Linked DNA regions of Homo sapiens: regions 1, 2, 3, 5 and 6 are each linked to region 4. Evidence: fine-mapped expression QTL. A gene starts in region 4. Each other region holds a variant in brackets. All regions are shown on one strand. Distances are between the middles of the regions. Region 1 overlaps DSE (dermatan sulfate epimerase). Region 2 has its middle 3.0 kb from the start of CALHM6-AS1. Region 3 overlaps DSE (dermatan sulfate epimerase). Region 4 holds the start of DSE (dermatan sulfate epimerase). Region 5 has its middle 8.6 kb from the start of CALHM6-AS1. Region 6 overlaps DSE (dermatan sulfate epimerase).

The links. PIP is the estimated chance that this variant, and not a neighbour inherited with it, causes the effect.
Region 1: its variant is fine-mapped to the expression of DSE in whole blood (TOPMed, PIP above 0.99).
Region 2: its variant is fine-mapped to the expression of DSE in whole blood (TOPMed, PIP above 0.99).
Region 3: its variant is fine-mapped to the expression of DSE in lymphoblastoid cells (TwinsUK, PIP 0.95).
Region 5: its variant is fine-mapped to the expression of DSE in whole blood (TOPMed, PIP 0.94).
Region 6: its variant is fine-mapped to the expression of DSE in lymphoblastoid cells (GTEx, PIP above 0.99). The same link has a PIP of 0.9 or more in T cells.

What each region holds. Positions count from the first base shown.
Region 1 is chr6:116,433,365-116,437,364 of GRCh38, reverse strand. DSE (dermatan sulfate epimerase) reads right to left here. Exons shown (of 6, transcript NM_013352.4): 5 at 3,815-4,000; 6 at 1-1,778. The coding sequence ends at 20. Among named protein-coding and RNA genes, the nearest start is that of CALHM6, 26 kb to the left of the region's middle. The variant A/G (reference allele first, on the strand shown) is at 1,755.
Region 2 is chr6:116,464,599-116,468,776 of GRCh38, reverse strand. No RefSeq gene overlaps it. Among named protein-coding and RNA genes, the nearest start is that of CALHM6-AS1, 3.0 kb to the right of the region's middle. The variant A/G (reference allele first, on the strand shown) is at 2,562.
Region 3 is chr6:116,417,993-116,421,992 of GRCh38, reverse strand. The region is part of intron 2 of DSE (dermatan sulfate epimerase); the gene reads right to left. Among named protein-coding and RNA genes, the nearest start is that of CALHM6, 41 kb to the left of the region's middle. The variant A/C (reference allele first, on the strand shown) is at 2,250.
Region 4 is chr6:116,368,375-116,372,522 of GRCh38, reverse strand. It overlaps DSE (dermatan sulfate epimerase), which reads right to left and starts at 1,576. Exons shown (of 6, transcript NM_013352.4): 1 at 1,402-1,576. It overlaps LOC100287467 (a long non-coding RNA gene), which reads left to right and starts at 804. Exons shown (of 1, transcript NR_148944.1): 1 at 804-4,148. RefSeq lists enhancers at 705-1,205, 2,720-2,769 and silencers at 1,203-1,497, 1,260-1,789.
Region 5 is chr6:116,470,255-116,474,432 of GRCh38, reverse strand. No RefSeq gene overlaps it. Among named protein-coding and RNA genes, the nearest start is that of CALHM6-AS1, 8.6 kb to the right of the region's middle. The variant C/A (reference allele first, on the strand shown) is at 2,236.
Region 6 is chr6:116,390,338-116,394,337 of GRCh38, reverse strand. All of the region lies in intron 1 of DSE (dermatan sulfate epimerase), which reads right to left. Among named protein-coding and RNA genes, the nearest start is that of DSE, 21 kb to the right of the region's middle. RefSeq lists an enhancer at 3,509-3,668. The variant A/T (reference allele first, on the strand shown) is at 1,524.

The DNA.
Region 1 (4,000 bases), 65 kb before region 4:
GTAATTTATAGCTTCAGTGCTAACACTGTGATTGGGAACAAGAAGAGTACAACCATAATAAAATACAGCTATCTATGAGAAGAACTGCATAAAGACATCTTTGGCCATGTAGGCTCTGGGCCCTCTGGAAATAAGTCAGTTGCATTGCCAACATGACAAAGAAAATAGCAATGTTCAGAATCAGGAACAACCTGGTATAGGAAGCAGACAGTGATGGGGCCCTGCTGTGTGTAGTTGTCACCATCCGTGCCTGTCCAAACCGGCCTTTAATCAAGCCCCCATTTTTATGTTTCTCGTATGTTACATCTGCAAAATCTAAAAGGTCTTTCATTTCTTCATCTTCATCTATGGGTAGTTCTTTCTGTGCCAAAATCTGAGCTTTCTGTCTAATCTTTTTCTCATTGACTTCAATCTGTGCAAAAATATCAGGGACAGCATCCACAAATTTATAGCGTTTGCCTGCCCTTCGGTTTTTCTTTGACTTGCTTTGCTGCTGCTGTTGCTGTGATATGGCAAAAATCCTGTCAATGGCCTCCTCAGTCTGTCTCTTATCTGAAAATCTCAGCAGGCGTTCAGCAGTCTTCCTAAAGCTAGCTGTGTTCCGGACTCGGGACAGTATCTGCTTCTCCAGCAGCTGAAACACTGGTTTAAAATGCTGCAAGTTCTGTTCCACAATAGCAGCATAGTCCTTCACCTCAGGGACAATGCTGCTCTTGATGGCTGAATTCCGGTCAAACAGAATTTTGTGACGATCAGCAATGACCTGTGCAAAGGCAGACTGTCCTGTGGCCTCACCTGTCCACAGGTATGTGGCGTAGGCATGTTTGCTGGTGGCTATGAACACATCCAGTTGCTGAGAGTCTCCGTGGACAGTGAAGCTCTGAACATCTATAGATGGCCCTATGAAGAGGTAAGCTGCCCTGGTGATGGGACTTCGGAGGTGCATGGTGACATTCACATAGTTTGTCCCATTGTAGGGATAGCCCCGAGGATATGTCACTGAGGCAAAGGTTGCTTTCTCGCTGTAGCCAGTATCGTCCATCCAGTACATTTTATAGAGACCATCTCTCTGCCTGATGAAAGCCCCATGGACACCATCTACCACAGTCTCCTCAAAAGGAACATCCACATTATGGAAGAAGCTCGCTGCTGTCTCCAAGGGACTCTCCTCTCCCAGGTGTATTTGGTCTACAAGGAGAAGCAGCTGTGGATGTAGGAGGATGAGATTCCTCTGAACATTCTTCAGGTTGAGCTGGGGGTTATAAGCTCCCACACCTTCTCCTCGGATGAAAACCACCCCATTTTTCTCCTCTGCTGCAACCACCCTCCCCTGACAACTAGCTGCCAGGTCATGCTTGTATTTAGACCATTTTGATGAGCAGTCTTCTGTGACCTGACCCACCCAGGGAGAAAAGCAGCTCTTTGACACAGCTGGGGAAAACATCAAAACATTGTTGAAGAAGGTGTACTTTGGCCCGTACAGAGCCTCAGTAATGAAAGGCACACCATTGGGAGCAAAAGTAAATGAGTTTTGATCAGGATGTTCATGCCCTGCATTAAAATTTCTCCATCCTTTGATCCAATCTTTGTATTTGTTTCTGTGGACAATGTCATATATTGCACGTCCCCCCAGTTTTCCAGACTTGAAGGAAAGGAAAGATCTATTGATTTCTGCAGGTAGTGCACTTCCATAAGTCACGACACCCCAGTCTTCAAAATAATGCAGTGTAGGGGTGCCAAAGTCTGGAGGAGGA[A/G]CCGATTTCAAGCTGCCATCATACCTGAAATTAATTTTGAAAAATTAAATGGTTTTCTGATGGCAGTGAAAATAACACATAACATGGTAATGTGGAAGATGCGACACACAAATGCTACCCAGAGCACTGGCAGTGCAGAGTATATTAGGGACAATTCTAAAAATATCCAAGGACAACCAGTATGCACAAAGGGAAACCCTTGGTGACTGGAAGAGGAATATTTCTTTATCATTTGTGATCCTTGGGTTTGGGCCCGAAATGATTTCTGCTCTAATCTCTACATGGACTATCTTCACTTGATGATGTCAGAGTGACCATTCAAACTACTGGGCCTCATGGATTTAAGCACTTCATCCAAATTTCTGGTTGAGGGGCTCCTCTTCTAGAAATGCCATGTTAGAATCTGGACTCTAACAAGCCTTGAGTTGTAATAAAGTATAGTTCTGCAGTAACTGATATTATTGAATGTTTGGTATTGAAAAGAGTTCTCCCTCAAGATTTTTTTCCTTGAAAAAATAAACTGAAATAGAGGAGAACTTCACATATTAGATAAAATGTATCACCAACACCACATCTCAGAATATAAATGGATGAAGTTTCAGCAAACTGTCTTATATTGAGGGATTTATAATTGTGCCTACTACTGACCAGCCAGGTCCAAAGGTTTGGTTTTGTTTTAATCTGCAGATGATGCCATGCTTCTTGGACAATAAATGACTTCTTATTTTCATTTATGATAAATGTTTATTATTAGCACTATGTACTTTTCCCTAAAGTAAATCAATCACCTAGAGTTAATCTTATTGGTGTTTGATATTGACTGTTTCATCTGTTGTTCTAGAGTCTCAGTTTCAAGACATCAGAAATTATATCTCTACTTAGGTCTAGTATAATGTTGGCTTAATTAATGTGATTTAAAAAGTGTAGATGTAAGCTGAATTGGCCATCTTACTCTCAGTTTTTGGTCAGTTTGCATATTGCTATAAAGGCAGATTTTTAAGTTAGACTTAGCATTAATCTGACCTATTAATCCTGTAGTTAGCTTTATAGAACTCTCTTCATTGAATATTTATGAGTAACTTATTTATGGGTTACACTATTAAGTAATTATGTCATACTCCTGAGAGAACTCAAGGATGGTTGCATCTTAATATGTTTAGTTTATCTATGAAAATAATCTTAAATTGTTGGTTAAACTATAGACACCATTTTACTAATATTTTTTCCTCCTTAATTTTTTTGTATTTTGAAAAAAAAGGATAAAGAGAAGCAAACCACAAGAAAGCTTGTTTTGGAGTTGAATGCAAATTTCAACAGCTTGAAAAGACATCAGGGATTAATGATTAATCAGTTCCCTGTAATTTTGATTTTAACTTATTGGATGCCAACAACATATTTGGCAATACTTTAAAAAGGAGACCCAAGCTTCTCTTTCTGGGCTTAAAAGATTAAGGCAAAAAAATTTATACGGTCCTTTTATTATCAAAGTGAAGCTGTCAAATACTGTCAAACACTTTTAAACACTTTTGAAAATTTAGTAACAGCTTTGCTATTAGAAGATTATAATGCTCCATTTACCAAAACAAAATATTTTACTACCTTTTTTTTGGTGTGATTATCAGAATAACCTAGTCTAAATTTTGTGTTTTGTTTTATATGCTTTCAAAAAATGATGTAAAATCAAAACATGCTTATTTATGAAATAGTGCAAGTGTAGGACAGCTCTAATATGAGAACCAAAAACTGAAAACAGTAATTAGATGTTAAACATAAAGAAATGTTTCTAACACTACCTATTAGGTACTATGCTCACTACCTGGGTATACTGCACATGTACCCCTGTATCTAAAAGTTGAAATTTTTTTTTAAAAAAGAAAAGTTTCTAAGAGTTTCAAAAACAGTGATATGAGTTGAATTGAAACTTCATATACTCAGGTGGCATGGAGAAAAGATTTAAAAAGTGTTTTAGTTTTTCTTTTTAAATGCAAAAAAACAAGTGCATAGCATGAATAGTACCCTTGGGTACCATTTCTCTTTAAAGCTAGCCCAATGTGTCATACCAGAGAAATTCTGTGTGCAGAGTGCACCAGCGCTGCCCTTTGGATGGTGTTCCTGGACCTTCCACCACACGGTTCCTTCTGATTTGGTCAGCTAGCCAGTTACCACTGCCATTACGCATGACAAATTTATCAAGGAACACTAATTGGCTTTCTGGACCATAAAACCAGTTGTAATTTGAGTCCGCA
Region 2 (4,178 bases), 96 kb before region 4:
CTAGAAAAGAGATGTATAGATGCCTAAAGTCTGCAATGATTAGGGAAATGTCAGTTGAAACCACAATGAGAGATACCATTACATATTCCCCTGACAAAAAGTAAATAACTAGAAATACCAAATATTGCAGAAGTGAGAAGCAATGAGAATTCTTATAGTAGTATAAATGGATACAATCCTTTATATTTGACATGATATAACAAACTGGAATATGTGCATACTCTCATGCTACCACTTATTCCCAGAAATGCACTCTGAAGAAACACTTGCTCGTGTTTATCAGAGTACAAGTGCATGAATGTTCATACCAGCAGTGCTGATAAGAGCCAGAACTGGGAACAACCCAAATGTCCATCAGCAGTTCAATGGACTACATTATAGTATATTTGAACAATAAAATACCACACAGCAATCAAAATAAATAAATTGTCCTAGACATAATGTGGATTAATCTCTTAAAAACAAAAAGAATATCACAAAACAATTATTACAGCACGATTGTATTCATTTAAAGTTCAAAAACCAGCAAAACTAAGCATGGATAGTTTAGGAATGCACACTTAAGTGGTAAAACAGCAAAAAGAAAGAAATGATCACTTCTCACTTCTAGGTGGAAAGAGTTGGAAGTGTGAAAGGATGTATGAGGCAGGGGTTTCTGGGGTGCTGGAAATGTACATTTCCTTCCACTCTTCGGTGGTTACATAGATGTTTGCTTTGTAATAATTATTAAATTGTACATAAATGTTTCATATACTCTTCTCTGTGATTTATTTCTCATAATTTTTAAAATGGCAATAAATTGCCGGATCTTGTAGGATATTCCTTTCATTTGGAACTTCTTAATGTTCTAGTCCTTGTGGCAAATCATCTTGAAAGAATATACCCTTTTTTGATTTGGATCTTTTAAAAAATCATTTTATGTATGTATGTATTTATTTATTTAGAGACATGTCTTGCTCTACCACCCAGGCTGGAGTACAGTGGCACAATAATAGCTCACTGCTACCTCAAACTCCTGGGCTCAAGTGATCCACCCACCACAGCCTCCAGGGTAGCTGGTACTACAGGTGCACAGCACCACACCCAGATAATTTTTTTTTTTTTTTTTTTGGTAGAGATAAGATCTTGCTATGTTTCTCAGGCTGGTCTCAGAACTTCTGGTCTCAAGCAATTCTCCTGCCTTAGCTTCCCAGAGTGCTGGGATTACAGGCATGAGCCACTGTGCCAGCCCTGATTTCAGTCTTTTTCACTGGATAAGAATATAATATGATCAATTCCACAGTCCTTACATTGCAATTTACAAGAGATATTTCATAAGTATGTAATGAAGAGGAAGGGACAAAATTAAGTCAACTAAAGGCTTTGCTTTTGGGGTAGGCTTAGTGTGAGGTGTGCTAAACACTCAGTGGGAGTGCGCTGCTGTCAAAATAGGCCCTGGCTGCTGCTGCTGGGGCTGACTCAGAGAGGGAGGGTTTCTCCATCTTTTATCTTGGGGAGAATAATTTATTGTAGGCCACCTGGTAGATAAGATGCAGGATGTTGTGAAATTTAGAGTTCCAAGATGTTTTTCAGCCAGAGACATTTGAGTATTTGGCTAATTCTATTTTCAGATACTCCCCTTAGGACTTGCTTCTTTAGTCAGTTCATTGAGCATTGATATTTCTAGCCATGGCTTTGGATAAAGCAAGGAGACCATTCTTAATCTTATGCCTTGTTATTATCTTGCCAGTACTCGATACAACGTAGAATCATCTCTTATAACAATGTGGTTGTTTTTCAGCAAATATTAATAGCAGATTCTGCATCTGAATCTCTTTAAAGGTTAGGTGTTCAGGATAGCATAAAGCTGGGGGTGATGATGAAGAATCATTTGGTAAACCAGCAAATAAATACATACTGAGTGTAGAAATGCTTCTTCAGCCAATGATGCAGCCTGTTTGGGCCAGGCCCAGAGGAGTGGTGACTTCTGCCAAATAGCAGTGACCTTGTTCCCACCAAGAAATAACTTACTGTGTCTCAGTCTCACCATGTTTATTCAAAGTGGTCTTTCCTGTTAGTAGTTGCTGAGTTTCAAGATAAAACGTCAAATATTGAGGGTCACTAAGGAGATCTGTATCTCTTCTGCCCACAAAGTCACATGGGCTAGGAAGGGAAAAATCTGACCCAGTAATAAAAACAGCCAGTGGCCACATTAAACTACATCATCTAGGGAGGATCCGTACCCTACCTTTGGTTTTGCCTTTATTGACATGTAACTTTGGATTAATGATGTAACCTCTTTAACTTTCGATTCCCATTTGTAAATGTGAGTGAGGTGTTTCACGGGTAACCTGGAAACTTGTTAAAATGAAATGAAATAAAAGATGCAAAACTGCTTTTTTGACTGTAAAACTCTACACCAGGGTAAGGTTACTTTTTAAAAATTTCCAATTATACATTTAATATTTATTATTCATTACAACAACTCCAAAGATCAAAAGTGCATGAAATTAAAAAAAATTCCTGCACCAATCTTAGTCCTCAGAAGGGACCACATTTGATAATTTAGTGCTTACCTTTCT[A/G]CACTTTATGAATGTGTGTGCATGTGTGTGGGGGCTGGTCGGTGGGGTTAACAAAAAAGGGATAATATCCTACTAACCAGTAAAATACTAAGTAGCAATTTTTTAAATGAGGTAAATTGTCAGATACTGACATGGAATAATTGTACTTTATGTGTAAAAGTTACAGAACAACACTTATGATAGAGTTTATGCAGACACAGAGTTTATACATGGCTACTTCTGAGAAGAATATATTGCAAAGGAATGAGGTAATTTTATTTTACTTCTCACCATTCTCTACCATTACAATTATTTTCTTAAGCATATATATTTTCACAATAATTATTAAGGACTGTGCAAGAGGAGGTGGAGCATAAATCAAAACAATGGAGACAATATGATACTACTGAAGATGCAAGTATAAGTGATAGAACATAAAAAAAGTTTTGAAAGGAAAGAATATACAAAAAGATATTGGAGGCTGGGCGCAGTGGCTCACATCTGTAATCCCAGCACTTTGAGGCTGAGGCAAGCAGATTGCTTGAGCCCAGGAGTTCGAGACCAGCCTGGGCAACATGGTGAAACCCCATTTCTACAAAAAGTACAAAAATTAGCTGGGCATGGTGGCACATGCCTGTGGTCCCAGTTACTCAGGAGGCTGGGGTGGGAGGATCACTTGAGTCAGGGAGGCAGAGTTTGCGGTGAGCCAAGATCTTGCCACTACACTCCAGCCTGGGTGACAGAGTGAGATCCTGTCTCAGACGAAAAAGGAAGCAGCAATTGGAAAATGAAATAAAGGAAGTAAAAATGAAACTAGGTATGATATGATTTTCAAAAGCATTCTTTTAGGGAATGAAAAAAAGCTGATCACGCTGTTTCTGCTGCCAACTTTCTTGTTACGCATGACTCTCAACAACAGGATATTCTGCCCTGTAGGTTAGTTCTTTTTAACGGCCTTATGCAGAAAAAGGTAAACAGAAATCAGCATAAGCTTCTGCCAAAAGAGGAAGAAGGGCTAAATATGACCAGTGCTCAATTATTTTATAGTTTAAAGTTTTTTTATCTCATATTTTAAAATTCAGAAAACAGCCACAAATTTGGGGAATGGGCAGGAATGACAAGCTAATGGAAGGCAAGGATCGCTGAAAAGTCCCGGCATTATAAAGTTACAGAATTTTATCCGTAGATATAATTGCTCTCACCGTCTTTAGAGACTTTCTATCAACAAATCCTGCCACATCTATGTACAAAGTCTACCTTGAATCTATCTACTTTTTCCATTTTGGTCCCCATCCACTCAGTTCAAGTTCACTCCCACCTATTTCCACTGTAGTGGCCTCCTGATTAGTCTCTCTCCTTCTACCCTGGCTCTCCTGCTTCCCATGTCATTCCTTTTCTCTCAAGGAAAGCAAACCATCTTCCTAAAATGCTCATATGATGAAAACCAAAATCCTTCTCATGGTTTCCAGGCACTGCACACTCAGTCCCTTGCTCATTTTTTTCAGTCGCCTTTCAGGTTTCCAACTCTGCTAACATCTTTTTCTCCCTAGTCTTTGCACATACTGTTCCTTCAGTAGGACTGAAATGCTCCTTCTTGCTACCCTACAGGATTCAGTTTTCAAAAAGTTTCCTCAAATC
Region 3 (4,000 bases), 50 kb before region 4:
ATCAGTCAAGTTTTAGTGTAGCGTCAAAGAAGAATATTCACAATTATTTGAAAAGATTATTAAAATACTCCTCCCTTGTCAATCACATATTCCTGTGAGGCTGGATTTTCTTCACATACTTCAACCAAAAAAACACATAGCAACAAATCAAGTGCAGAAGCAGACACATAAGATTTGCAAAGATGTAAAACAACACCTTCCTTCTATTTTTTGTTTTAAAAAAATATAGTTTGGCTGGGTACAGTGGCTTATGCCTGTAATCCTAGTGCTTTAGGAGGCCAAGGTAGGAGGATTGCCTGAGCCCAGGAGTTCCACATAGCAAAACTGTCTGTACACAAAATAATTTTTTAAAAATTAGCTGGGCCTGGTGGCATGCACCTGAAGTCCCAGCTTAGGAGGCTGAGGCAGCAAGATTGCTGGAGCCCAGAAGTTCAAAGCTGCAGTGAGCTATGACTGCACCACTGCACTCCAGGCTGGGTGACACAGTGAGACCCTGTACCTAAAAAAAAAAAAAAAAAAAAAAAAAAAATATATATATATATATATATATGTATATATAGTTATTTTTTCCTAAAATATGTTTATGTTAATATGAAATGAGCTTTGACAATATATAAATATGAGTAAATGAACAAATAAATGTTTCAAACTTCTCAGTTTTAATTTCTAATATGGTAAACTTTGATAGATACAGCCCAAATAAACAAAGCTGTTTGATGTCCTCATTAATTTTTAAGAGTACAAAGTGCTTCCAAGTCCAAAAAGTTTAAAAACTGATACTTTGAATATTTTCAAAGGTGAATTTATATGAAATAAATTAATCTGAACACAGGAAAGAGCTATTGATTTTCTGAGTGTAAGGGTGGAATGTTGGTGGGGAAAGGCATAGAGTTTGGTCATGATGTGCTGTGTCTATGAATTAAGTTGTGATTCTGAAAGGAAGAATGAGCCATAACTATTTTTCCAAAGTTGAGCAGTCTCATTAATCCAAATTTTTGTACCAATTTTAAAGGGATAGACTGCTTCTATTATCATAAATGCTTTTTAAAATATTATGTATGGAGTATAATAGTTGGCAATCGAAGAAGTCTGTATCACTAAAAAGGTGACAGTTTATTTGATTAAATAACCATTAAAAGGAACCCTAAAAACAATGTTGCTATCTATTTTTATTGGTATAGATTTGAACTGCAAGTGATTAAATGCTTCTATTTTTAAAATTTTCATATAGTTTTGATATAGACAGTCTATAGAAAATAACTGCCTGTGAAAAGATTAAAATTTAACATTGCAAGGTTCACAGAATATTATTTAAATTTGTATACTGTTGTCTTAGCCCAGGCTGCCATAACAAAATGCCATAGACTGGGTAGCTTAAACAACAGAAATTTATTTTTTACAAGTTCTGGAAGCTGAAGGTCTGACATCAGGGTGCCCGCATGGTCAGGTTTTGGTGAGAGCTCTGTTCCTGGCTTTTAGAAGGCCGCCGCCATCTTACTGTGTGCTCACCTGGCCTGTCCTAGATGTATGGTGTGGGGATAAGGCAAGCGTGAGAGAGAGTGCACAAGAGTACAAGCTCTCTGGCACCGCTTCTTATCAGGGCACTTATCCTATCATGAGAGCCCCACCTTTAGGACCTCCATCTAAATCTAATTCTCTCCTATAGGCCCTTTTCTCTAAATACTTCCACATAAGGGGTTAGGGCTTCAATATAAATTTTGAGGAGGGTCCCATTCAGTTCATAGCAACTGTCTATTTAATTTACACAAATACTGCTAAAATAAACACTTACAATAAAAAGAAATTAGGTCTTTGAAAACAAAGATGTGCCAAGAGATCACTCATACTTATTTAAATTAATCAACAGTATACAAGAAACAAATACTAGAAACAATAGAACTCATAATTCCCTTTATAATTAATCCTATTTCCTAGTACTTTTCAGAACCTAACAACTTTATAGCAGGCTTTTCCATATGTAGCTATGCTCCAAAGATCACAATTTGATCCACAGTATAGGCAAATCTACATATTTTTTAAAGTGTATTTAAATGAGACTTTATGATTTGTCAGACCTTTCCAACAAAGGAGGATAACTCCAATAAAATGATCCATCTTCTTTTTCTCATTTTCAGAATAACTATAGTTTTACCAACCTATAAAATATTTACTTCGTAAATTCATAAAGTAGAAGATTTGCGTTTAAAATCTGATTTTATACAGTAGATAGTTATGGAACTACAAATTTA[A/C]GTTAAAATGAAACAAGCTTTACAAAAATTATAAATTTACATTCAGAACACAACAGTGAACTCCTTAGAAATTGCAAACTCTAAAAGTACCAGGGTAGTGCACCACCAGCTTCCCATTTGCCAGCTTTGCTGCAGCTGTGTCTACTGTACATATGCCACACCTCTGTCCACGTGCACTTGGGCACACCATTAAAATAGGCCAGAATTAGGTCAACTCTATTTTAAAAATGTAAATTATTCTATTCATTCTAAAAGTCTCCTGAACACAGTAACTTGATAGAAAACCATTTAACTTTCAACCAAACACCTTTGTGTGTTTGGAAACAAACTCCAATAAGTTAAGACAGTCATGTATTACCACTCCTTTTAAAAACATGACTAATGCAGTAGTGATTCATCTTTTTTCCCTCCATTTTAAATGTGAAAACTAACCATGAATGTTAAATGTTAGTAATATGTTAAATTTGGTATGGAATTCCTATAAATGTAGCTAAAGGGAAGTGGATTTCTCACCTCTGAGGCCTCATCTGTAAAGCACATTGGGTCTTGGCAGACATCTGCCAAGAGGACCAGATTAAGCCTGAAAGATAGAGACTTGATCTAGGAGGCTCTGAGTGGGTAGTCAGCAGTCCAAGGGGAATGTTCAGCTAATCTCTGGCCTGGCTTGGCGTCCATATTCCAAGTGTTTGATCAGGTGGCTAAAGGTTAGCACTGGCATTGTGAAGCAAAATGCACAGGGAGGGAAAGGAGAGGGGAGTGTACTTCATATTAATTAAGCACATGTTATGTGCCCAAGCCTCTAAGTACATTGTGTCATTTCATCTTCTCAACTCAACATTAGGTATTCCGTCCCCATTTTATAGGTTGTGAAAAAGCAATTTGGATAGGAGATTACTTGTTCAGAGCCACACAGTTAAACAGTGAAGCTGAGAATGGAATCCAGAATTATCTGAATTATCTGAATCTAGAATGGTTTTGCCTTCTTAGTGAGGGGAAGAACGGCGCTTTCAAAGAATGTCACCAAGTTTGCAATAAGAACTGAGCCAGAACATGCCAGAGTCAGTGGCTCTACCAAAAGCTAGGCAGAAGGGTCCAAGGGTTCTAAGCCTTGCCATTTTCATGACAGCAAGACAGAGCAAGGCATGAGATCTGAGAAAAGGGGCACACATTAGAAGAAGAGATACTGCCATTCTGTGCTCATGTGGTTGCTCAGGGCCCACCCAAGGAACATGAGACACCAATCATGTAGATTTCCTGAACAACTCTTTCCCTCCCTGATGAGCCTGCACACCTAATGTACTACTCTAAGGTAGAGTTGGTCCAGGGGATGGTGGTTCTGGTTTGCATCTTCAGAACCTTGGGCCCCTTAAGGTAGTAACAAACACTCTCTTCGTGATCAAACCCTAGCCAGGCTCCTCTGTGCCTTCTTGGCTAGGCCTCAACCTCATTCCATGAAGAGTAAACACTAACAAGTTTCCAATACCTCAAGGTCATATCCCTGAGATGACCCTCTCCCTGTTGAAAGTGTCTGCCTAAGAAACTCAAGGCTTCCAGAAAAATTTTGTTTGTTCCTGTCAACATTTGAGGATAGGGTCTCTGTCTTTCAGTCTCTGTGGGAGGATAGAATTCTACCCTCGATAATTGCCACTTAGCAGATGTGTGATTAGCTGGCCTAATCACATGTACATTGACTACCCTTTGTAATTTTTCTCTTTCCTGGCTCTACTAAGCCCCTGCTTGCCCTCCTCCCT
Region 4 (4,148 bases):
TATACAATATTGTTTATCACTATTTCACATAGAGATTATCATTGAGAATTTTGTTTTGTTTTGTTTTGAGCCTGTCGCCCAGGCTGGAGAGCAGTGGCGCAATCTCGGCTCACTGCAAGCTCCGCCTCCTGGGTTCACGCCATTCTCCTGCCTCAGCCTCCCGAGTAGCTGGGACTACAGGCGCCCGCCACCACGCCCGGCTAATTTTTTGTATTTTTAGTAGAGACGGGGTTTCACCGTGTTAGCCAGGATGGTCTCGATCTCCTGACCTCGTGATCCGCCTGCCTCGGCCTCCCAAAGTACTGGGATTACAGGCGTGAGCCACTGCGTCCGGCCGAGAAATTTTTTAAAAACTTGAGGGAATTACTTAAAGTTTAAATTCTATAATGTGAAAAATACTAAAAATATGTATAAGTGAGATCTTTCATGCATTTAATTAACAGTGCTAAACCATGACTTTCTAAACCATGACCAACGAAAAAATTTTTAAAAAGAACTTTATTACACGAAGATTCCTAGAACTAAAAGCGTCATTGCCTGACCTAAAGAATTTCAGGTAAGTGAGGTTCACCTCCTGATTTTAACCAAAGGCTTCGGTTTCCATCTGAATGCCAGCCGGCTTAAGAGGAGGCTGCTGCTTTAAAGGAGCGATATAAACGAAAAAGTTCTCAGGTCACAAACTTAGCTCAGATTCCAGCCCCGACAGATCTTGAGCCCATGTGGCATCGCTTTCAGAGCTTCCCAGTCTGTGAGTCAAGCCCCCGCCTCCTCCCCTCCCCGGGACTGCCTCGGGGATGAGGTTTACTAACAATTTCTCCGAGTGCCGGCGGAGCCCAGGAGCGCTGGAATCCAGCGTCTGGGAGAGGCTTGGGGAGCTCTTCCTCGGCTTCTGCAGCCGCAAAGTAGGGTTGCCAGCGCCAGGATCTGCACACAAGCCGCCGCCACCTCCCCTGCCCCCAAATGGCTGGGGTACGGAGGGAAAGGAGGACGCGAGGGTGTGCCACCCAACCCCGCAGAGTGAAGCCGAGGCCCCAAGGACCGTCGAGGAAATCGCGGCTGGGCCGGCCAGATCCGACGCACGGAATGCGATCTCCAGGTTCTCATCGTGTTCCCGGCTCGGTGCTCGGCGTTCAAGGGGGTGGGGAGGATCGAAAAGCTGCCCCTCGAGGCTGCTCCGCCGCCGGGGAAGCCCGTGGCTCAGGCTTCACGCGTCAGGCGCTCTCTCGGAGTCCAGCCGAGCCGGGCCCGGGCGCGCAACCCGCGGCGCTCCGCTCTCAGCCGGGGACGTGGCTCTCCGTCTCCCGCCCGCGCCGGGACAGCCCCGAAGGCTACCCGCCCGAAACTCCCGAAGAAAGTTGCGCCGCGCGCCCCAGCTCGTCCCTTGCGCGCCCCTCCACTTACCGCTCCCAGCCGAGGCTTCGTTCTCTCCGGCGTCGCCTCCGCAGCCTCCAGAGCCAGCTCCCGGTCCTCCTCACTCCAGGGCGCCCGGGCTCCCGGCCCCCTCCGAACCGAGCCCTCCGCGCCCCCGCCGCGCCATGCCCCGGGATGCGCTGCTGCAGCCTCGGGCGACGCTACTGAGAGCCGGGCCGGCGGGGGCGGGTAGGTGTGGGCGAAAGGGGCGGAGGGAGGGACGCGGCGGGCGCTGAGGCTCCGCTGGAGGGGGGAGGAAACCGCAACGTCACCAGAGCCAGAGGAGACGAGGATGAGGAGAGGGAAACGGGGACCCCCTCCCCCGGCCGAACCCCGACCGCAGGCCCGCCCCGCTTTCTCCCGCTCCTCCTCTCCCGGGACTCGCCGCTCGCAGCTGTGCTCGGCCTTCCACGCCACCCGGCCCGGACTCCACCCGCACCCCCGCCCGCCAGGCCTCTTTGGCTCTAACTTGTTCTAGTTTCTTAGGACTCAAACGCTTCGGGTTCGAGAATCACACCCAAAGGAAAGGTAACTTTTGGAGGCCCAGGGGGAGGAGCTGATGCTTCCATACTACTCTGCGAGAGGAAAGCGAGGAAGACGTTAAGACTCTTACTACCGGGACTGGTGCCCACTCCAGTCTGCCTCCTCCCGAATAGTTACTGCCTCTTTTCTCTCGAATTCGGTTTTACTCTCTTCTCAAAGAGAAGTTAGTGGGAGGGGGGACTTTGGGGCGGGGGTCACCTATAGAGAAGCAGTTCTCTTTTTTACTGTACCAACAAAATACACTAAATCCAAGCGCACCGAACCCTGCAAACGGAACAGATTTTAATCACAGAAGGTCAGGAGCAAAGCATTTAATGTAGGCAGCTCACAAACAGAAATTTATCTTACGCGGTGGGGGGGTGTGTGTGTGTGAGAGAGAGAGATCCCTCATGCACCCAAGTTCAGGTGGAGCATTTGCAACCTTGGTAGTCACAGCCTCCTGGAGAAGAGTCCTCCTGTTTTCCAAAAATCAGCCACTGCTCAAACACGCTCAGCCAGGTCCAACCAGGCCCCAAGGAGATGTGAGGTAGGATCAGGGCCATCACCTCAGGAATACTTTGCCCCTTCCACCTCCACCCAGTGTGTGCAAGTAACCTACCAGACCTAGATTGTACAGAAGTGAAAGATTTGTAGGATACTTACCCATTCATTAGAATGAGAGATATTTTACTGGGAGCAGTGCTTTTCTCCATGAGTTCTGAAGGGCACCTCCATCCAATTCCTCTATCCTCAGAGGTTCTCACTTCTATTTGGCCAAATAAGGAAAAAATGTGGATGTCTCAGTTTATGCTTCTCTTTTTCAGAAATTGCATTTAAGAGGAACTCCTTACAAACAGGTCAAGAGGAAGTGGTACTATTAAATTTTTTAAATGTTCACTCAGGTGAACCACTAATTTGCATAAACTTCTTGATGCTTTAGGGAAGGCCTGTCGAGGAGAGAAGAGGGCTCTGGAAACTGGAACTAATCTTTGGTTCAAATCCAAACTTTGCTTTTACTACTGTGGGCCTTGGAAAACTAACATCAGAACCTCAGTTTCCTCATCTATAGTGTAACAATATAATACCTTGTTTGAACAGTTATGGAGAGGATATAATAAAAATAGCTAATGTTTATTGAGAGTTTACTACACCATATCAGACGGTCACTGTGCTAAGAGATTTACATATACTAATTCAATTATTAGAATAAATTGTGAAAGTGTCTAGCTGTATTATGTAATCCGTAAGTGTTAATTTCCATTTATCTTCTCAAATTTGAAAGAGACTTTAGAAAAAACATCTGGTTTAATTTACGTAACCTCTCAGCAAGTAGTAGTCTAGTTCAGTGATTCTCCAACCTAGAACTTTAGAATCAGCAGGGGAGCTATAATAAATTCTTTCCAATGGGGACCCCCACGCAAGAACAACAAATCAGAATCTCTGAGGTTAGGGTCTAAGCATCAGCATCTGCATTTTAAAATCTCTTCCTAGATGATCACAATGTACAACCAGGATTGAGAATTCTTCAAAGGAGGTAGTACTGACTGTCATTTGCTCCCCTTTACCCTCACACCCCCCACAATTTTGCTTTTGAGTGACCTGCGAATTGGCCTCTGGATGACATTCACTTTGTGCAAAGCCCCCCCCGTCCCCCCGCCCCCGCCCACCCCATTACAGTAAGTCTCAACAGATCTGCTATTCTGCTCTCTGGAATCTACAGGATACACCTAGCCTTGATTCCACAGGAGAATACTTCAATTTACCTGGGTACATATTAACTCCATCAGCTTTTCTTCATCCATTAGGAAAGCTCTCAGGAGGAGATTTACTTTGCCAACATCTCTCTCAAACCCTGATGCCAAGAATTGAATTCAAGGTTTCACCCAAGTGACAAACTAGAAAGATGTTTAATGGCTTTGTTGTAATTACTGTATTTCCCTAAGTATATCCTTGGAGCTTCCATGGCAGCAATATTACCCAGCTGACTCCATATTACAATCTACCAAATAAAACCTTAAAGTGTTAAAAGTTTAGTTGGAGAATCACTGAACTAAACAACTACACTCAATGCAGTGTTCAGCACTTTACCTGTGATTCTACTGAATTTTATTGTGTTAAATTAGGCCTCTTAGCTTGTTGACATATTGGGTATCATTGATATAACTGAGTAATTCCACCTCTCAATTTCATGACCTCTGTAAATCCGGTCTGTATGC
Region 5 (4,178 bases), 100 kb before region 4:
ATCAGAAATGAGTCTTCTGATCCCTTTCCTGGAGAATATAGGCTTAATTTCAGCATTCTGCAAGCCAGGTGGGAAAGAGAATTGGGGAAATAAAATTTCAATATGTACATTTTAACTTAATTTCCTTTTGTTCAATATAGTGTCCCTGCCTTCAGTTATACCTATTATCTCTCAGTCCAGAAATATTTTTGAAAAACTATATCTAGAGCTTAAAGCTCCCATCTTCTGCTAGGGTAGGGAGAAGCAGTTGCTTGGCTGCATGGAACGGGACAGATATCTGAGGGACAATTTTCCTTAAAAAGGTTTTCAACCAATTCTGCTTTTAACTCCACCTCCAGCCCCATATCTAGAGGTGAATGGTGCTGCTAATTCCTGAGAATTTTACAGATTCCATGGTGTAAATCATATTGCTTATTTTTTTCCACTTCTGGCTTAGGTTTCAGATTTTTTTTCCTCGGGTCTATTAGACCAATTATCAGGTACCATCTATGTTTTTTGTTTGCTTGTTTTTTGTTTTTGTTTTTGTTTTTGTTTTGAGACAGGTCTCACTCCCGTCGCCCAGGCTGGAGTGCAGTGGGGAGATCACAACCTACCGCAGTCTCAACTTCTCAGGCTCAGGTGATTCTCCCAACCTGGACCCCCCCCCCGTAGCTGGGACTAGAGGTGTGCCCCATCATGCCTGGCTAATTTTTGTAGTTTTAGTAAGGCAGGGTTTCACCATGTTGGCTGGGCTAATCTCGAACTTCTGGGTTCAAGCGATCCACCCACCTTGGCTTCCCAAAGTGCTGGGATTTGTCTGAGCCACGGGGCCCGGCCACCATCTACTTTCTAGCTCTCCAAAATTGTGTTTGTTTTTGTTCCCCTTCTTGTTCTCTGCTTGCTTTATGCCACTGAAAAAGATCCCTTTACTTTTTTTTTTATTGTGGTAAAATGTATACTTTCAAATCAACAATTTTGAACAGAAGTACCTTTTCCAAATATTAGTCATTGCCAATGATAATATTTACCAAGCGCTATTTTTAATAAGTCTAAATTGTTAAATCTCAAATCGGAGGGGAAATATAGAGGATATGGAATAAAGGTGTAGATTTTTTCCCTTTTTTTTTTTTTTTTTTTTTTTTTTTGGAGACATAGTCTCGCTCTGTCACCCAGGCTGGAGTGCAGTGGCCTGATCTTGGCTCACTGCAACCTCTGCCTCCCGGGTTCAAGCGATTCTCCTACCTCAGCCTCCCATGTAGCTGGGACTATAGGGGCCTGCCACCATGCCCGGCTGATTTTTGTATTTTTAGTAGAGACAGGTTTTCACCATGTTGGCCAGGCTGGTCTTGAACTCCTGACCTTGTGATCCACCCACCTTGGCCTCCCAAAGTGCTGGGATCGCAGGTGTGAATCACGGCACCCGGCCTGGTGTAGATTTTAAGAAAATAAAACTGACAATTTTAAAGAGTGAGCTTTACCATACATCTGCAGGGAAAGTTAGGCAGCTTCTAGCTGGGATAAATGTGCTTGGCAGCCTGGAAAGACTGTGGAATTCTGTTGGTATGAACAGTGGCAAGCAGACTTAAAAGTTAAAGAATGTGGACTTGTTAAAGTTAGTCCTCTTAGATTATATATGAATTGAATAGGAACAGTTATTTCATCAAGAAATATTGAGCAGAGCTGGAAGTAGAGAAAGAAGTTAGGACTTTGATTTTTAAGTAGGAAATTGATTTTTAAGAGGAAAAACATCTGTTTTTGATTTTGTGCACTGCCCTCTCTTCAAGTGCTTTTAAGTATCTTTAAAGACGCCTAGATGCAAGAAGATCTAGTCTCCATGAAATAAACCATGTCTTAAGGAATCCCCTATGCATCCATCTACTTGCTTGGCCATTGAAATAAGTTGCCCTACAACTTGACCATATCTCAGATACGAGTTTATTTAAGTTGCCTTTTTTGAATTAGACTATGTGATTTAAGAATATCGTGAAGTAAATTAAACAACTGTTGGTGGCCATCTGCCTCTGATTATCTGAGGTACAATTTTCCAAACTGTGTGTTCTGGGAAACATCAATAACCCTTAAGTTGGTGAATACTATATGGAAAAAAACCCTGTTTTTGTTTTTTAAATTTTCTTGCTTTACTATATATAAGAAAAATATGAAATATATTTATATAATTTTATAGTGCTATATATAATCTGCCTTTATGAAATGGAATGCCATACAAAAAAGACCAAAAAATAACATTAGCAATCA[C/A]CTGATTTATGAACACATGGATTTATGAACACTCTAACATGGTTTTGAGGTCTAGGAATGATAATGTATTTACCAAAATGCCACGTCTGGTTTCAGATTTATTGTCTATGGTTATATATCGTGTGTCTCAAAATTTCAAGAAATATTTGCAATACTTAAAAATGTTTTTCTTCTTAAAATAAAAACATATTTAATTTTCTCACATGTTTTTATCAGTTTTGTCGCTATTTTGTGGGAGTTACAAACAGATTTTAAAAAATCTTCAGAAGTTATAAAATCATGCTGGAAAGAGGAAACATACAGTTTTATCATAATACAAGGTTTATGGTCAAGTGTTATAGTAAGTTTGAGAGGTGAAGTCACAGGATTCAGAGGAGAAAGTTACTGTGGACTGATACAGTTGGGGCGCACACTGATGAGGAAGTATGATTTGAAATAGGACTTGGAAAATAGTGACAGCTGGAAGATTGTCCTTCTCAGTCTCTCACACTCTCACATGTCTTGCCATATGCCAAGACTGCAAAACTCTGACTGCTTTTTACCTAGGCCATGTCTTAGAGTTCTGTTTGCAGCAAGCAACTTAAAGAGATGAAGTAAAGTCTCCTTTTTGGAAAAAGAGCAGGTTTGATTATTAGTTCCTATAAAATGGCAGTTCCCCAAGCTCACTGTTCTCTCCAGTAATGCAACCTGCTGTGTGTGCAAATATCCATCTTAGCCATCTCTGTTGCCCCTGTAGGGCTTAGGGACAAGGGGAATCAATGCAAACATGATACTCATGCTGTTTGTGCTGTTGTGATTAATACAATTTTTGTCACTGGGCTAGACATTTCATCTCTTCTGCCAATTTTCATGATACAGTAATAGACTATTAGCTTGTAAATAGGGTAAAATAAAATCCCAGACCTGACACTGGGGTAATGAGAGATTAGTATGTTTTAGAAAGCACTGTTCAGTAGGAATGTAATGGAAGGGACCTTCACTGGGGGCTCTGGGTAGCCAGCAAGTTTATGAGGTTAGACTTTCAGTAGATTTGACTTTTCAGCCCAGATTATTGGAATCTAACTCATTCTCAAGCCTTAGCTAAAATATTTCCTCTTTAATGAAATTTATGTGAATATTCCTAGGCAGATCTGTATTCTGAAAACACTTTGCTTATTCTTTTATTATAGTTTAGTTTTTTATTCCAATTATGGCTAATTGTTTACGTATTTGCCTACTGATTCTTTGAGAGTAGAAGTAACATCTTATTTCTCTCCTTTTCTCTGATCCCTTTAGCCTACTGCCTTATAATAATAATAAATTTTGTTTATTGAGCATTTTCTAGGCATTATCTCATTTAATCCTCACAAAATCATCTGGGTAAATAATATGATTATTCCACATTTTACAAAAGCTGAAACTGAGATTTGGAGAGGCATTTGAAGTCACATCCTTAGTAGAGGCCAAGCCATAAACCCAGTGTTAACTGCCTCTAGTGTCTGAGCTCTGAATGATGGGATTATAAAGATTCCCACAAACAGTATCCTCTCTCAATACAATCAGCTCTCCATATCCATGGATTCAACCAACTAACTATAGGTCAAAAGTATTTGGAAAAAAATTTCGATAGTTGCAACTGTACTGAACATGTACAAACTTTTTTCTTGTCATTATTCCCTAAACAATAGAGTATAACAACTATTACATAGCATTTTCACTGTAGTAGGTATTAAGAATAATCTAAAGATGATTTAAAATACATAGGAGGATGTGCATAGGTTATATAAAAATGCTACACTATTTTATAGAAGGGACTTGAGTATCCATGGATTTGGTATCCATAGAGGGTCCAGGAACAAATCCCCCACAGATACTGAGGGATATTTCTTGAATGGTTGAAAGTAAATATATTAAGGAGTAGATGGTGACCCTGAGGGCATTAGTTAAATAGGGCCCAAAACTTG
Region 6 (4,000 bases), 22 kb before region 4:
GAATTATGAATTACAATTACCTTAAGCAGATCTTTATAAAGCAAAGATAGGCCCCAAATTATTTTGCTGTAATTCTGGTTCCAACAATCCACTGCAGCTATTATGATTCAGCAGTCACACAGAAAAACTTCGTTTCTGTGATCCTAAATGCTTTTCACATATTTGATCTTTTACTCTTCAATAACTTAATATAGCAAAATAGTATTATTTGTTCCACAATAAATTTCAGAGAAAGAACTAGAACTTGCACCTCCTAAATCCTAAGCCAAGATTCTTTCCTTTAACCAAACTAATTTGTGAGAATGTTCAATAACATTAAAAGTTCCATTTTTTTGCCATCCTTACACAAAGAAAGCACAGAAGAATATGCTGAGAAGAAAAAACTGAACACTAAACTAGTACATCAAGTTTCAAAAAAGATTTGGGTTTCAAATGATCTGGGACTGTTTATAGAATGAAACAAATGGTAGTACAAAAGTTCTTTCAATTCCACAGGCTTCAGAAAACAGAGAAAGTATAAGGATGGGAGAAAGAAATCACCCTGTAGAGAGTAAAACATGCCCCAAACTAAGATGGATTAAAAAACCCTCTTATAATATGTGCCAAATTTGAGGAACACAACATAATGATTAACAGTATGGGGCATGGAGTTGGGCAGACAAGAGCATAAATCTCAGCTCTGCTGCCTCCTAGCTTTGATCAACTGACGTCCACTCTCAAAACCTCCCTTCTGTCATCCACAAAATGAAATATGCTTCATGGGGTGATTAGACATGTGTGATGCACTTAGCATAGAACATGACATGAAGAGCTCAATAATATTTATAAAAAGGAAGATGTTTCAGACCTGCAAGATTATACTAACCTATTGATAAAATATTTTATTTGAAAGAAACTAAATCTTCATACTTTACAGGTAAAAATATAAGAACTATAGATGTTAACTGACTAGGGCCAGATCATACTGCTTATTAGAGACTTAGTTGAAATTGGAACACAATGCTTCTCACTCTTCAACACATCACTCATAGTAAGCTCATCACTCACTGGAAAGGAAAGTATACGACCCTTTAAATTTTTCAAGTGTTTGTTAGAGGTTTTGCCCCAAAGAAAAGAATAATAGATTAAATGAGCTATTAACTAAATTTTCTTCCTAGGGTCAGTAATTTAATTCTTCATATACAAAAGGCGACCACTTCTTTTTTCTCCTTTATTCTGTCAGGAGAAAGGCCTGCCGATCTAACAGCGACTGGGAAACACAGTCCCTGGCTGGAAAGCTGTTTCTTAGTAACACATTTATATTACGGAAGGAGTACATTAAAATTTAGGGGACACCTGCTGCCACTGCAAGGCGGATAGGTTAACCTCAGTACAGGGTCTGGTCCTGGCTCCATCACTGCCATCAGTATCTCAGCTGATCATCCTGGAGATGAGATGCTACTTAATGTTAGGCTTCCCTACCTCTCACATATGAAAAACCAGAATGTCAGCATATTCGTTTACCGTCAAGCAGATTGGGAAAT[A/T]TTTTCTGACTTCACAGGAAACCAACACAGGAAGTGAATTATTAGATAACTGTCTGGTGAACAAGTAAAGAATCAGAACAAAGGCAATGGGAAAGGCCCTGAACTTGGGGCAACTTGACCAGTTAAGATCGCTACCATAACTTCATTTGAAGGAGGCTGCTGAAATTGCCAGCAGCTGTCACAGATGTCCTTGGGGGTATCATTAAAGACAAAATTTTAAAAACTGAGTTGTAATCATATTTAGAAAACAAGAGTGAAATGTACATCCCCTATAGCTCCTGCCACCACACCCGCCAAGCTCAGCCTAAGAGCAGCTGCTCCAGTTTGCTCAACTTAATGGATGGGCCCCATAGTTAGTTACATGATTAGGAATAATCCCCCACACTAGAACCAGTGTGCCCATATCCATGGCAAGATTGAACAGGCAGACCCGACAAATGAATGTTCCTGACGTTGCACCCTCTCCCGTGGAAAACAGACAGATGTTGCCGAGGTTAGGCACTGTGACTCGCTTGCTCATGCTTCCATTTAAGTCCAAGTTCCCTCCTCCTTCAGGCCTCCATTGAAGTTTTAGGAAAACCCTGATTGCCTGAGAGCATTAGGATATACTAGACAGGGCTGCATTGCCTTCTCTGATCCATTTTAGGATTTAACTCTCAGAGAAACCTTCCAAGTGCTTTGGGGAACACCTTGCTGTGGTCTCACATACTATTTCACTGTTGCTACATATTTTAACTATAGTAATAAAATGCATATATTTTAAAAGGTCTCCTCACTTTTCTATTTCAGTTTTATTAAATGCATAATTAAAATAATTTTTTGAAGAATGTTTCCTCAATACCAAAGTAAAACCTTACATGTCCTTGGTAAATTTTTGTAGTGAAATAAATCTAACCTTATTCTTAAATATGTCAAATCCTAAGAAAACCTATGGCTTTGGTACTGCAGAATCGTTCCCTAAAATTATACTCCCTGATGTGTAAAGCCCGTGGACTCAGACAAAAAGGAAAATCTTAAAACTGAGAGCTCCTTTTTTTTTTTTTTTTTTTTAAGACGGAGTCTCGCTCTGTTGCCCAGGCTGGAGTGCAGTGGAGCAATCTTGGCTCACTGCAAGCTCCACCTCCTAGGTTCATGCCATTCTCCTGCCTCAGCCTCCCAAGCAGTGGGACTACAGGCACCCGCCACCACGCCCAGCTAATTTTTTGTATTTTTAGTAGAGACGGGGTTTCACCATGTTAGCCAGGATGGTCTCGATCTCCTGACCTCGTGATCCGCCCGCCTCAGCCTCCCTAAGTGCTGGGATTACAGGCGTGAGCCACAGTGCCTGGCCAAAACCGAGAGCTCTTAATCAAAATCAAGAATACTTTTGCTCCCTAAAAGGTAATTTCCAAACAAAAATCCACAATATGAAATGATAGTATATGGAACCTCCAAGAATTTGCACACGCTGCTGAAGGAGTAATTAGAAACCTGAGGCCACACAGCAAAACCACACCATGTATAATAACGGTGTTCACCACCTTAAAATACAACATTAAAAAAAAACTTTAGGTCAGGCTTTTATTAACTGCAGCTCTGTACAGTCAAAGAACATTTCTATCATTGTCCCCTGAAAGGTTTTCATGAAGACAGCACACTTTTTCATTATATAATGTGAAGCCCACTTTCTTTGTTATACCAGTGATGATAATTGTATAACTTCCTTATATTAGAATAATTCATGTAAAATATGTTTAAAGTGCTCACAAACATTTTCTGATGTCAAGTCTGAAGGGTTCCTCCCCCATCCACCAGAGACCACCTGAGTGAGAAATGTAGTGGCTATCTAACTAAATTCATAATTTAGTGGTAGAGGTTAGCCTGGTGCATGTTACTACTAAACTACAAACCATTAGTATCCAGCTTTTCAGAGATTGGTTATCATTTCATATGTAGAAAAAAAGTAAAATCTGTATTATTTTCATGGAGGCAAAGGGAAACGAGGGTAGAGATACGAGTGTACAAACGTCACTTATGAGAGTACTGGGGCATCTAATTTTGCTTACAGAAGGCCAAAAGAGAAAATGAAACGGTTACACTTTCTAAGATAAGCTATAAATAAATTCTAGCTTATCTAGCAGTCTAACAATTGAAGATCTTCTGATTAGTATTTCTTTATTACAATTTTAGTTGATTTTCTTAATGATGGTTTTAGAATACACTATTCTAAATTATTTTCAGAATTTTTTATTTTAATATTATTTTCAGAAGTTAATATTGAGCATAATTAAGTGTATTTTTTATGCTGAATCACTTAAAAAGTAGTAATTTTTGCCTGTTATGCTTTGCAGTGCATTGTGATCCAGTACTGGAATATCAATTCCTTACCCAAGTTGGGGATAAGAATTTCTTATAAATACCAATAAATTCTACTATGTATTGAAAAAGTATTAAATCCAGGAATTATGGGCCAGGCACAGTGGCTCATGCCTGTTATC